Linked DNA regions of Homo sapiens: region 1 is linked to region 2. Evidence: fine-mapped expression QTL. A gene starts in region 2. The other region holds a variant in brackets. All regions are shown on one strand. Distances are between the middles of the regions.

The links. PIP is the estimated chance that this variant, and not a neighbour inherited with it, causes the effect.
Region 1: its variant is fine-mapped to the expression of RAB37 in whole blood (INTERVAL, PIP 0.97).

What each region holds. Positions count from the first base shown.
Region 1 is chr17:74,561,883-74,567,096 of GRCh38, reverse strand. It overlaps CD300H (CD300H molecule (gene/pseudogene)), which reads left to right. Exons shown (of 4, transcript NM_001405511.1): 2 at 2,822-3,178; 3 at 4,200-4,263. The coding sequence starts at 2,854. Among named protein-coding and RNA genes, the nearest start is that of CD300H, 3.0 kb to the left of the region's middle. The variant A/C (reference allele first, on the strand shown) is at 2,256.
Region 2 is chr17:74,735,104-74,740,317 of GRCh38, reverse strand. RAB37 (RAB37, member RAS oncogene family) reads right to left here and starts at 3,062. Exons shown (of 9, transcript NM_001006638.3): 1 at 2,953-3,062. The coding sequence starts at 3,045. LOC124904057 (a long non-coding RNA gene) reads left to right here and starts at 2,979. Exons shown (of 3, transcript XR_007065905.1): 1 at 2,979-3,060. RefSeq lists enhancers at 1,260-1,982, 2,347-2,436, 2,707-3,430, 3,817-3,876 and silencers at 2,907-3,106, 3,307-3,356, 3,407-3,576.

The DNA.
Region 1 (5,214 bases), 170 kb after region 2:
CCACACAGTAAGCCCTAAGTAGATTTGGCAACTTTAATCATTATTACCGTCATTATTAAGATCAGGAATGCCACCACGATCCATCAGAGAGAAGGGGGAATAGGGGACAGAAAACCAGTACTTACTAGGCTAATCACTGTAATACATATCTTGTTTCCCACTATCTCATTTAATTCTTATTGCAATCCTGATGAAAACAAGAGACCGAAGCTCGCTCTTAGAGGTGCAAATAATTTAGATTAAACAGTTTATAAAAGGCACAGTCAAGGTCCAAACCTAAATACTTTTATTTCCAAGATCATTGCTCCTTCTCTAATTCAATGTCAATGTCTGCTGCGCCTCCTTGTAAAGCTTCACTTACATATCTGGAGGCATATGCTGCATCCCCACGTGGGAACCCTGGGTGTCCCCACAGGTCTGGGCTGGCCCCAGGGCTGCTACTTAATGGGCCCCCAGAAGGGTGAGACAGCTGGGAACCTGTGGTCAGCCCTGGTCCGAGAGTTTCCGTAAATGATGGTGGAGGGAGAAAGTCAGTTTCTTTGCAAGGCTGGGTAGGCGGGAAGCTCCGTAAAAGATGGTGGGGGTGGAGGTGGAGGAGGCTGCCCATGTTGGCTCAGAGTCAGGGTCTGGACTGAATATCCAAGGAGAGGGAGGCTCTGTGGTGGGATTCAGTGTGTGCCCCACAATGTTTTTGCTCCTTGTGGAATTAGCCCCAAATCATTAAGAGAGAAGTTTAAGGACCTGAAAGAGCAGGCTAACAGCGCCCCCAGAGCCTGAGCTGAGAGCAGCAGCGATTTCAGGAGAGGACTGGGTGTGCCCACCCCTTCCTTGCTCCTAAGCCTGTGCCTGGCAGGCAGTTAGCTCCCTGGGAAAGCTCGTGGACCTCAACACTGTGGACATTTGGGGCTGCGTTATTCTGTGTGTTGGGGGCTGTCCTGTGCATTGTAAGATGTTTAGAAGCATCCCTGGCCTCTACCCACCAGATGCCAGCAGCAATTCCCCACCCTAAGTTGGGACAACCAAAAATATCTGTAGTCATTACCAAATGTTCTCCCGCCCGCCCCCCTGCCCCCCCGCCCCCTCCCCGCCCCCCTGCCCCCCAGGTGAGAATCACTGCTTCAGAGAGGCAGACAGCTTTCTAATGCAGAATAGGTCAGTGGGCCACTCGAGCCTGCTTTCTGGGAAATAAAGTGAGAAAACGTGAGATAAGAAAATGAAGATGCAAAAGATAAAGTTTTCCTGTTTTTTTTTTGAGACAGAGTCTCACTCTGTCGCCCAGGCTGGAGTGCAGTGGTGCGATCTCGGCTCACTGCAACCTCCACCTCCTGGGTTCAAGTGATTCTCCTCCCTCAGCCTCCTGAGTAGCTGGATTACAGGCACCCACCACCACGCCCGGCTAATTTTTTGTATTTTCGATAGGGACAGGGTTTCATCGTGTTGGTTAGGCTGGTCTCAAACTCCTGACCTCAGGTGATCCACCTGCCTCGGCCTCCCAAAGTGCTGGGATTATCGGCATGAGCCACCACACCTGGCCAGATTTTTCTTTTAATTCACAATAAAAATATAGCAAAGCCTCTCCATCAGTGGATGGCAATATATTACCTAGATGGATGGGTGGGTAGATGAAAGATGGATGGATGGATAGATAGTAGATAGATAGATAGATAGATAGATAGATAGATAGATAGATAGTTGATAGGTAGACAGATTACATCCACAATTCCTTTTCAGGAGCTTGGTATTTTGCCAAAACCATTTCTCAATAGCCGTTTTGTCCTGAGTTAACCACCTCCCTGTCAAGAGCAGATGAGACAGCAGCTGTTTAGGACTGGTGAGGCCCCCGAGGCAGGAAGCAGAGAGTTGATGGGGCTGGGTCCCAATCATTTGGACCCGGAGCCTGCAGAGTGGGTGGAGGAATGAGAGAGGGGACTCGAAGAGGGAGAGTAATGTCGAAATATTGGAGGGGGCAGAGGACCTGGAGAAGAGGCCCAGGACATGCCAAGGCGGGTGGGTGCTGCAGAGAATTGGGGGTGGGAAGGAAGCTCTGATGGGTGTCCCTGTGGAGCGGAGCCCTGCAGATGTTAGGCAATGGCGAGTGTTGCTGCAGGATTCTGTCCCGGGGGAAAATTCCAGGCGTAAATGTCCTTGAATCACAAGAACAACTCCTTTCTACATGGCCCCTTGATATCCCCATGGGCAGCCCCCATATTCTCTGTGACCCAGACCTGGGAGCAGGAGGCCTCATCTATATGGGC[A/C]GGGATGGCAAGTATGAGGCCCACAGATGATTTGGGAAAGGGGCAGAACCAGAAGCCCCAGGCTTCCTCCTTGCCCTCCATACTGGGCTGCTTCTGGTTTTTCCTGGTTCTCAATATTATTTCCTTTCCTATTTCATCCATCCGTCCATCCATCCATCCATCCATCCATCCATCCATCCATCTATCTCTCCAGCCATCCATTTATTCAGAGTGTACTTAGTGGCTTCATTCAATCATTGGTGTTCGATGAGGACAGGTGTTTCTTCTCAGGACTGACACTTCTGGGGGACCCAGAACCTGTCTGAGGCCACCGAGGTCAAGCCTCTCCCCCTGATATTATAAGATGGCTGAGCACACCCAGGCTGGCATGGCCTCTGGAGTCTCAGGATCCCACACCGGGCATCTCCTTGGGTCTCCCCCTGCAAATAGCCCATAGCTCCCTGGTTCCCGACTCCTCCCTCCTCCAGCCTCAGGCAACACTGGGCGTGCAGAGGACCTGACACTCAAGGTTCCACTGGTCCAGACTCTTCCAGGTGAAGACGGGGAAACGGACTTGTGTTTTCCAGGCTGTCTGACTGTGAGTGGCCCCAGCACCGTGATGGGCGCCGTGGGGGAATCCCTGAGTGTTCAGTGTCGGTATGAAGAGAAATACAAGACGTTTAACAAATACTGGTGCAGACAACCATGCTTGCCAATTTGGCATGAAATGGTGGAGACCGGAGGGTCTGAGGGAGTGGTGAGGAGTGACCAAGTGATCATCACGGACCATCCTGGAGACCTCACCTTCACCGTGACCTTGGAGAACCTCACGGCAGACGATGCAGGAAAATACCGATGTGGGATTGCAACAATACTGCAGGAAGATGGCCTGTCTGGTTTCCTGCCCGATCCCTTCTTCCAGGTTCAAGTGCTGGTCTCATCGGGTAAGAGCCTCTTTTCTCAGGCATCTGAGGCCATCTCTGCAGAGCAGCCACAGAAATTTTGGCCCAGGAGAGAAGAACTGGGCCTAGTGTGGTGCATCAGAGACTCAGGACAGAGTATGTTGTGTGAATGTGTGTGGGAAATACATGTGTGTTTGAATGAGTGGGACAGTGTAAGTGTGTTTCAGTGTGTGACTGTGAGTTGTGTGCAAACATGTGAGAGTGAGTGCAGGTGTGAAGGTGTGTGTGAAAGCAGGTGTGTGTGAATGTGTGAGAGAGCAGGTGTGTGTGAGTGTGTGTGAGTGTGTGAGGGAGCAAGTGTGTGTGAGTGTGAGTGTGTGAGAGCAGGTGTGAGTGAGTGTGGGAGTGTGTGTGAGAGCAGGTGTGTGAGTGTGTGAGTGTGTGTGAGAGCAAGTGTGTGAGTGTGTGCAAGAGCTGGTGTGTGGGTGTGTGTGAGAGCAGGTGTGTGTGAGTGTGTGTGAGAGCAGGTGTGTGTGTGAGAGCAGGTGTGTGAGTGTGCATGTGAGAGTGTGTGTGAGAGCAGGCGTGTGTGAGTGAGTGGGCGTGTGAGTGTATTTGTGAAGTTGCGTGAGTGCACATGTGAGAGTGTGTGTGCAGGTGTGAGAGTGTGTGTGAGACAGAGAGTGTGTGCTGGAGGGTAGTGGTGGTGTGTGGATACACTGGCAAGGATGGGGGTTTTGGAACCTAAGCCTAACCTTCGGCATGTTGATTTTCAGCGAGATGGGGGACACCAACATGGGAGAAGGTGGTCATCCTCTGGTCTGGGTTTATAAAATGCCCACCCGGCCCCAGAGCAGGGCATCCATTGGGATGGGGTTGGGGGGATGCTCTGTTACTCCAGTCAGGCTTTGGTCTGCCTATTGGAAGACGATGGTCCTAGAACATCTGTCCAGCTGCCTCCTTGAGCGTCCTCTGCTTTATGAAGTCAGAACCATGCAGGTACCAGGTACTCAGCTGGGAAGAGTCAGGCGTAGGGCACTGAACCTCTGTTCTTTATCCTCAGCCTCCAGTACTGAGAACTCTGTGAAGACACCTGCATCTCCCACCAGGCCCAGCCAATGCCAAGGGTAAAATGCACGTGTCCCAGTGTCTTTTGCCATGTGTGCAGCTTCTTTCCTAGGGTGGGGCTTCCTAGACACAGGTTTCCTTGATTATTCACCCACTCAACATTTATTTATTTATTTATTTTTTGAGACAGAGTCTAGCTCTATCGCCGAGGCTGGACTGCAGTGGCACGATCTCGGCTCACTGCAAACTCCGCCTCCCGGGTTCACGCCATTCTCCTGCCTCAGCCTCCTGAGTAGCTGGGACTACAGGCGCCCGCCACTAGGCCCGGCTAATTTTTTTTTTTGTATTTTTAGTAGAGACGGGGGTTTCACCATGTTAGCCAGGATGGTCTCGATCTCCTGACCTCGTGATCTGCCCGCCTCGGCCTCCCAAAGTGCTGGGATTACAGGTGTGAGCCACCGTGCTCGGCCAACAGGTGTTTATTTGTTATGCGCCAGAAACTGATGGAGATTCTAGAGATGCAACAGTGAACAAAGGGGCAAGATTGTGCTCTTGAGGAAGTTGCAAATAGGTAGATTCAGGCAATGGCCAGATGGATAGATAGATAGACAGACAGACAGGTGGACAGACAGATAGATGGATAGATAGATAGATAGATAGATAGATAGATAGGTGGATAGATAGATAAACAGACAGATGATAGATATGATATGAAAGATGATAGAGATGGCTGGCTGGCTGACTGGAAAGACAGATGGAGATGATAGCTGGCAGAGAGAGATATGTAATAGAGACAGAGAGACGATAGATCAAGGAAATATGTCAACGAATGATAATTACTGTGGAGGAAAATAAAGCAGGTGTAAAGAGATAGGGTGCCAGAGTGTGTGGGAAGCTGGTGGGGCATGATTTGGGCTATCAAGGAAATACAAGATGTTCCACAGAAACAAAGAACAAAGGGACTGTCTTAGTTTGGGTTTCCCCCAAATCAGGTCCTGAGACAAGGACTT
Region 2 (5,214 bases):
TATATTGGACAAGGATTCCCACCCAAGGGAGTCTATCAGAATCTGCTGGGGGTGGGGCATGGTCATTTGCATACTCTATAATGAATATTGTTTGGGTTTTTTTTTTTGTGTCACAACATTTATTTGGAAGTTTCTTTCTTTCTTTCTTTCTTTTTTTTTTTGAGATGGAGTTTTGCTCTTGTTGCCCAGGCTGGAGTGCAATGGCGAGATCTTGGCTCACCACAACCTCCACCTCCCAGGTTTAAATGATTCTCCTGCCTCAGCCTCCTGAGTAGCTGGGATTATAGGCATGCACCACCTCGCCTGGCTAATTTTTTATTTTTAGTAGAGACGGGGTTTCTCCATGTTGGCCAGGCTGGTCTTGAACTCCCGACCTCAGGTGATCCGCCCGCCTCAGCCTCCCAAAGTGCTGGGATTACGGGCGTGAGCCACCGCGCCTGACTGGAAGTTTCTAATGACATTTTATGTTTATTAAAAGGTTGCATGAGGCCGGGTGCAGTAGCTCATGTGTGTAATCCTAGCATTTTGGGTGCCCAAGGTGGACGGATCACCTGAGGTTGGGAGTTTGAGACCAGCCTGACCAACAAGGTGAAACCCCATCTCTACTAAAAATACAAAAAACTAGCCAGGAGTGGTGGCACACGCCTGTAGTCCCAGTTACTTGGGAGGCGGAGACAGGAGAATAGCTTGAACCCAGGAGGTAGAGGTTGCAGTGAGCCGAGATTGCATCACTGAACTCCAGCCTCGGTGACAGAGCGACACTCTGTCTCAAAAAAAAAAAAAAAAAAAAAAGGTTGCATGAATTAGGGAAGGTTGAAATTTATACTGAAGTGGGGAGATGTGTAGTTGGAAGTTCTTTCAGCAGAAACCTCCCACATGGGACATGTGGCTGCAGATCGGCATCCCGGGGTTGCTGTGGGTAGTGCGGGCAGGAGTACCAAGGAGGTAACCTGTGGAGGGGGCGTGGCCCTCTCCTTTACTGTCTGGCTCTGCTCTGCTCATCTTCCCCAGGGACACGCAGGAATGGTGGAGAGGAGCACTTTGTCCCACTGTTCTCCAATCTTGGATAACAGGGGTCTAGATCCAATGCTGGAATTTCCCAGCTGCTGGTTAGGTGGCTTAATGGGTTAAGCAGGGACTAGGTTTGAATTATTTTTGAGGCTCTGAAATTGACAGTGGAGCCCAAAGGCATTCCTGTTGTGGGCATGGGGTACTGGCATTAGTTAACTCTGGTGGAGAGGCAGGGGTGGCTGAGCAGAAGGGGTATGAAGGATGGGTCTTGATTTGTAAATGGCCTACTGTGTGACTTTAGGAAGATTCCTTAACCTTTCTGTGGCATGGTTTCCATAGTGGGTAGAAGGAGGAGGGATAATGTCTTTGAGGTATTTCTAGAGTCTGTTAATGGCTAGGGCCCATCATCGTGGTGAATCACCTAAGACCCAGGGAAGAGTGGCCCAGGGTGGGAACTGTCTGCCTGTGGGCCACATCACCCCTAGTCTGGTCCAAGGAGCTCCTGCCAGGCTTTCTCAGAGGGTCCTGGACTCACTCCCCTGGGGCAGGCCCGGGGAGGCTGGGGACCAACTCTCCGGCCAATGCCGCTTGGCCAGGGAACAGATGAAGGGGTGGGGGATAGGAGCTTTCTGGAGCCTGCACTCCTCCCTGGCTCCTGGGTCCCAGCCCTGGAGCAGGAAGGAGGGAGGGAGGGCCAGTCTTTGTGTACTTTACAGATCACAGCTGCCTTGAGCAAACGATGCCAGCTACCCACCCAGCTCGGTGATTCCACCAAACACAAACAGCTGCCTAGCCTGGCCACCTCCTAGGCAAACAACCCAGCTGGTTTGCAGGGCAACAAGGTCAGGCAGTCCCCCTCAGCCTGGGGCCTGGCCAACAGCAGCTCCTCCTCTCCGAGGGTGCAGGGGCCCATTTCCTGCCACAAGCCCACACAGGACGCCTATCTCAACGGCTCTGGGCGGATGACTTGCAGGGTGGCTTCCCCCGAAACACTGGGGTGGAGGCTGAGGCTCCCAGCAAGGGTGAGCCCTGGTGTCGGGGAGGAAACCGAGGCCCAGAGAGAGGCAGGTCTCCTTCAAGGCCATGCAGCGGAATCCAGGACAGCCCTCACTCCATCCCCAACCCTGCAGAGGAAGAGTGGAAGCTCTAGGCTCCCTCAGCAGTTCTTTCAGTTTCTGGTACCCGCTCACTCCAAGGACACAGATGGAAGGCGACAGACCAGTCCACTGCTGTCCCTACCTGTTTCCATACAGGACACCCCTGTAGAGGGAGCAAGCCCCAGAGAGCAGCCCTGGAGCTCTCTCAAGTGCGGGATGCGAAAGACCAACCACTGAAATCTTTCTCAGGTTCGAAAAATTCCCAAGTGACCTGCAGGCCGGCTGGCAACATCCTTCTGGGAGGAGCGGCTTCCGACTGCAGGGAGGAAGGTGGGAGGCAGTGCCTCCAGCGGGTGGAATGGGAGGGGAGCAGCTGGGGGACATCAGGCCTTAAACCTGGATGTCAGATCTCAACTAAGAGCTTAGCTCGGAAAATGGCATTAACGCCAGTTCCTCTGCCAGCAGGGGACGTCCTCTCCGAGTCTCCGTTCGGTCCCCATCTCCCAGCCCTTCCCAGCCTGAGCCCCGAGAGTTGCGCGCTTAACCCTCACCAAGAAGCATGGGCTCCCGGGGGCTCATATTTGCCAGAGTGTGGCAGAAGAGAACTGAGTTGGGGCCGGCGGGGGGATCACTCAGTTTTTGCGATCTTCCGCGACCCGCCCCCACCAAGCCAGCAGAGACACCTAGAGCTTGGGACGGCCCCAGAGGCTGTGTCCTGACCCTCTCTCCCTCCCTCCTCTGGGAGACGCAGCTGCCTGGGGGAAGGGCTGAGTCCAACCCAGACGCAGCCAGGAAGGGGCTAGCGCCGAGGAGGGCGGGGGTCTCACGGAAGAGGCCCACCCACCTTGCCCGTGAGGTCGTAGCTCGGACTGCAGGGCGGGGAGCGCTCGGGGGCCTCGCCATCCCGGGTGGCAACGGCGCCTGGCGTGCCCGTCATGTCCCTGGACGAGAGGTGAGCAGTGCCGGCCCGCAGGCGAAGGAGAGCGCAGGAACGGCCCCACCCCCGCCCCGCCCACTCCTCCCCTCCCTCGACCGGGACCCCTCAGGCTCCTCCCTCCGTCCCGTCGCCCCCTCGACGACACCGGCTCGGACCTTGCTGTTCCCTGAGGGCACGCAGAGCCGCAGGGTCTGCGTGAAGGGGCGGGCAGCCTCCCTGAGCAACACCGGCTCGGCTCCGTGCGCTTCGGACATGAGCCACATCCAGCCCCGGGACCGGTCCCCTGTGGTCGCTTGCTTGCCCCTGGGGGAGCGGGCCGCGGGGACCCCGTCTGCTGCGGAAGAGTTCCCGTAGTCGCTGCGCACCGCGACAGCAGGCGGCGCCCGAGCCCCGGGCCGTGGGCTGTCCCCAGGTGGCGAGGCGGGGAGCTGGGGACCCCTGGGCTGCGCCTCCGCCGATGGCCCCGAGACACTTCCTCATCTGTTAAGTCACCCGGCCCGAGCTCATCTGAATATAGTTTTGTTTACCAACCCGTACTCGCCTTGCAGCACATGTACGCTGCGGTGTTTTGGGGCCTCTGCCTGGTGCGGGGACTTTGACCCTTTAGTATGGATCACCTCTCATTTCCCCCGGCCTGTTGGTTGTGCCCAGAATGTCCCACCAGGGGAGAGCTTTCGCAAGAGGGCTGCGCAGCACACATCTCCCAGTGGACCGCTCCTGAAGGCGGGGCCGGCCTTATTAACCCATGACACTCACCCTGGCCCCGAGGAGGAGCCAAATAAATTCATGAAGTCGTAGATCATTTTGAGCAGAGCTGCCAGGATATCCCAGGCACCCGGCAGCTCCTGGTGACAGAGAGTGGGGAGTGCAGCTGGGGTTGCCGGTAGCAGAGCTCAGGGGCTCTGTGGCCTGGGCCGACCTTTCAATTACCCCCATCTCCACATTCTATAAGCAGCTTCAAGTTACCAAGGAACAGGGCGGGTGCATTACAGCGGGACGGTTTGAGGGATGTGTAGGGAGGGGAGAGCTGGAGAGGGGTACCTGCACTTTTTTTTTTTTTCAGACAGAGTCTCACTCTGTCGCCCAGCCTGGAGTGCAGTGGTGCGATCTCGCCTCACTGCAACCTTTGCTTCCCGGGTTCAAGCTATACTCCCGCCTCAGTCTCCCGGAGTAGCTGGGATTACAGGTGCGCGACATCAGGCCCGGCTATTTTTTCTTTTTGTATTTTTAGTAGAGACGGGGTTTTGCCATGTTGGCCAAGCTGGTCTCAAATTCCTGACCTCAGGCGGTCCGCCCACCTCAGCCTCCCAAAGTGCTGGGATTACAGGCGTGAGCCACTGCGCCCGGCCTGCAATTCTTAACTTAGGTGTGGAGGTGAGGAGCAGGGGTAGACGTGGCTTATGGGCCACCATAGGCCTGTGGGGACTGACTTTGTACGCCAGCCTCCAGCCCTGTATTTTCTGACATCAGCTGGAGGTATTTTCTGTCAGCTGGGAGAAGCGCCCAGAGTGGGGACAGAGGTGATCTCCAGTAGAGTAAAGAGCTTGGGTTACCTCTTCTGGAGGTGAGCGTGCTATAACCTCAGCTGGGCATAGGGCGGGACTCAAACAGGGAGCCTCAGACTGGAGTGTGGAGGCTGCGCAGCACACTACAGAGGCGTGGTGTTGGTTGCTATTTGGATGCCAGAGGCTCTTGCTGCAAATAATGCCGAGGTTTGCTCAATGCCGTGGGCTCCCGGAGACGGAGTCTCACTCTGTCGCCCAGGCTGGAGTGCAGTGGCGGGATCTTGGCGCATTGCAGCCTCTGCCTCCCAGGTTCAAGCAATTCTCCTGCCTCAGCCTCTGGAGCAGCTGGGACTACAGGTGCACGCCACCACGCCTGGCTAATTTTTGTATTCTTAGTAGAGAACTTCACCATGTTGGACAGGCTGGTTTGGAACTGCTGACCTCAGGCGATACGCCTGCCTTGGCCTTCCAAATTGCTGGGATTACAAGCGTGAGCCACCGCACCTGGCCTGGTATGCGGTCTTTTCTCTCCCCTTCCCTCCCCTCCCCTCTCCTCCCTTCCTCCCTCCCTTCCTTCCTTCCTCCCTCCCTCCCTTCCTTCCTTCTTTCCTTCTTTCCTTTCTCTCTCTCTCTCTTCTTTCTTTCTTTGCCTGCCTGCCTTCCT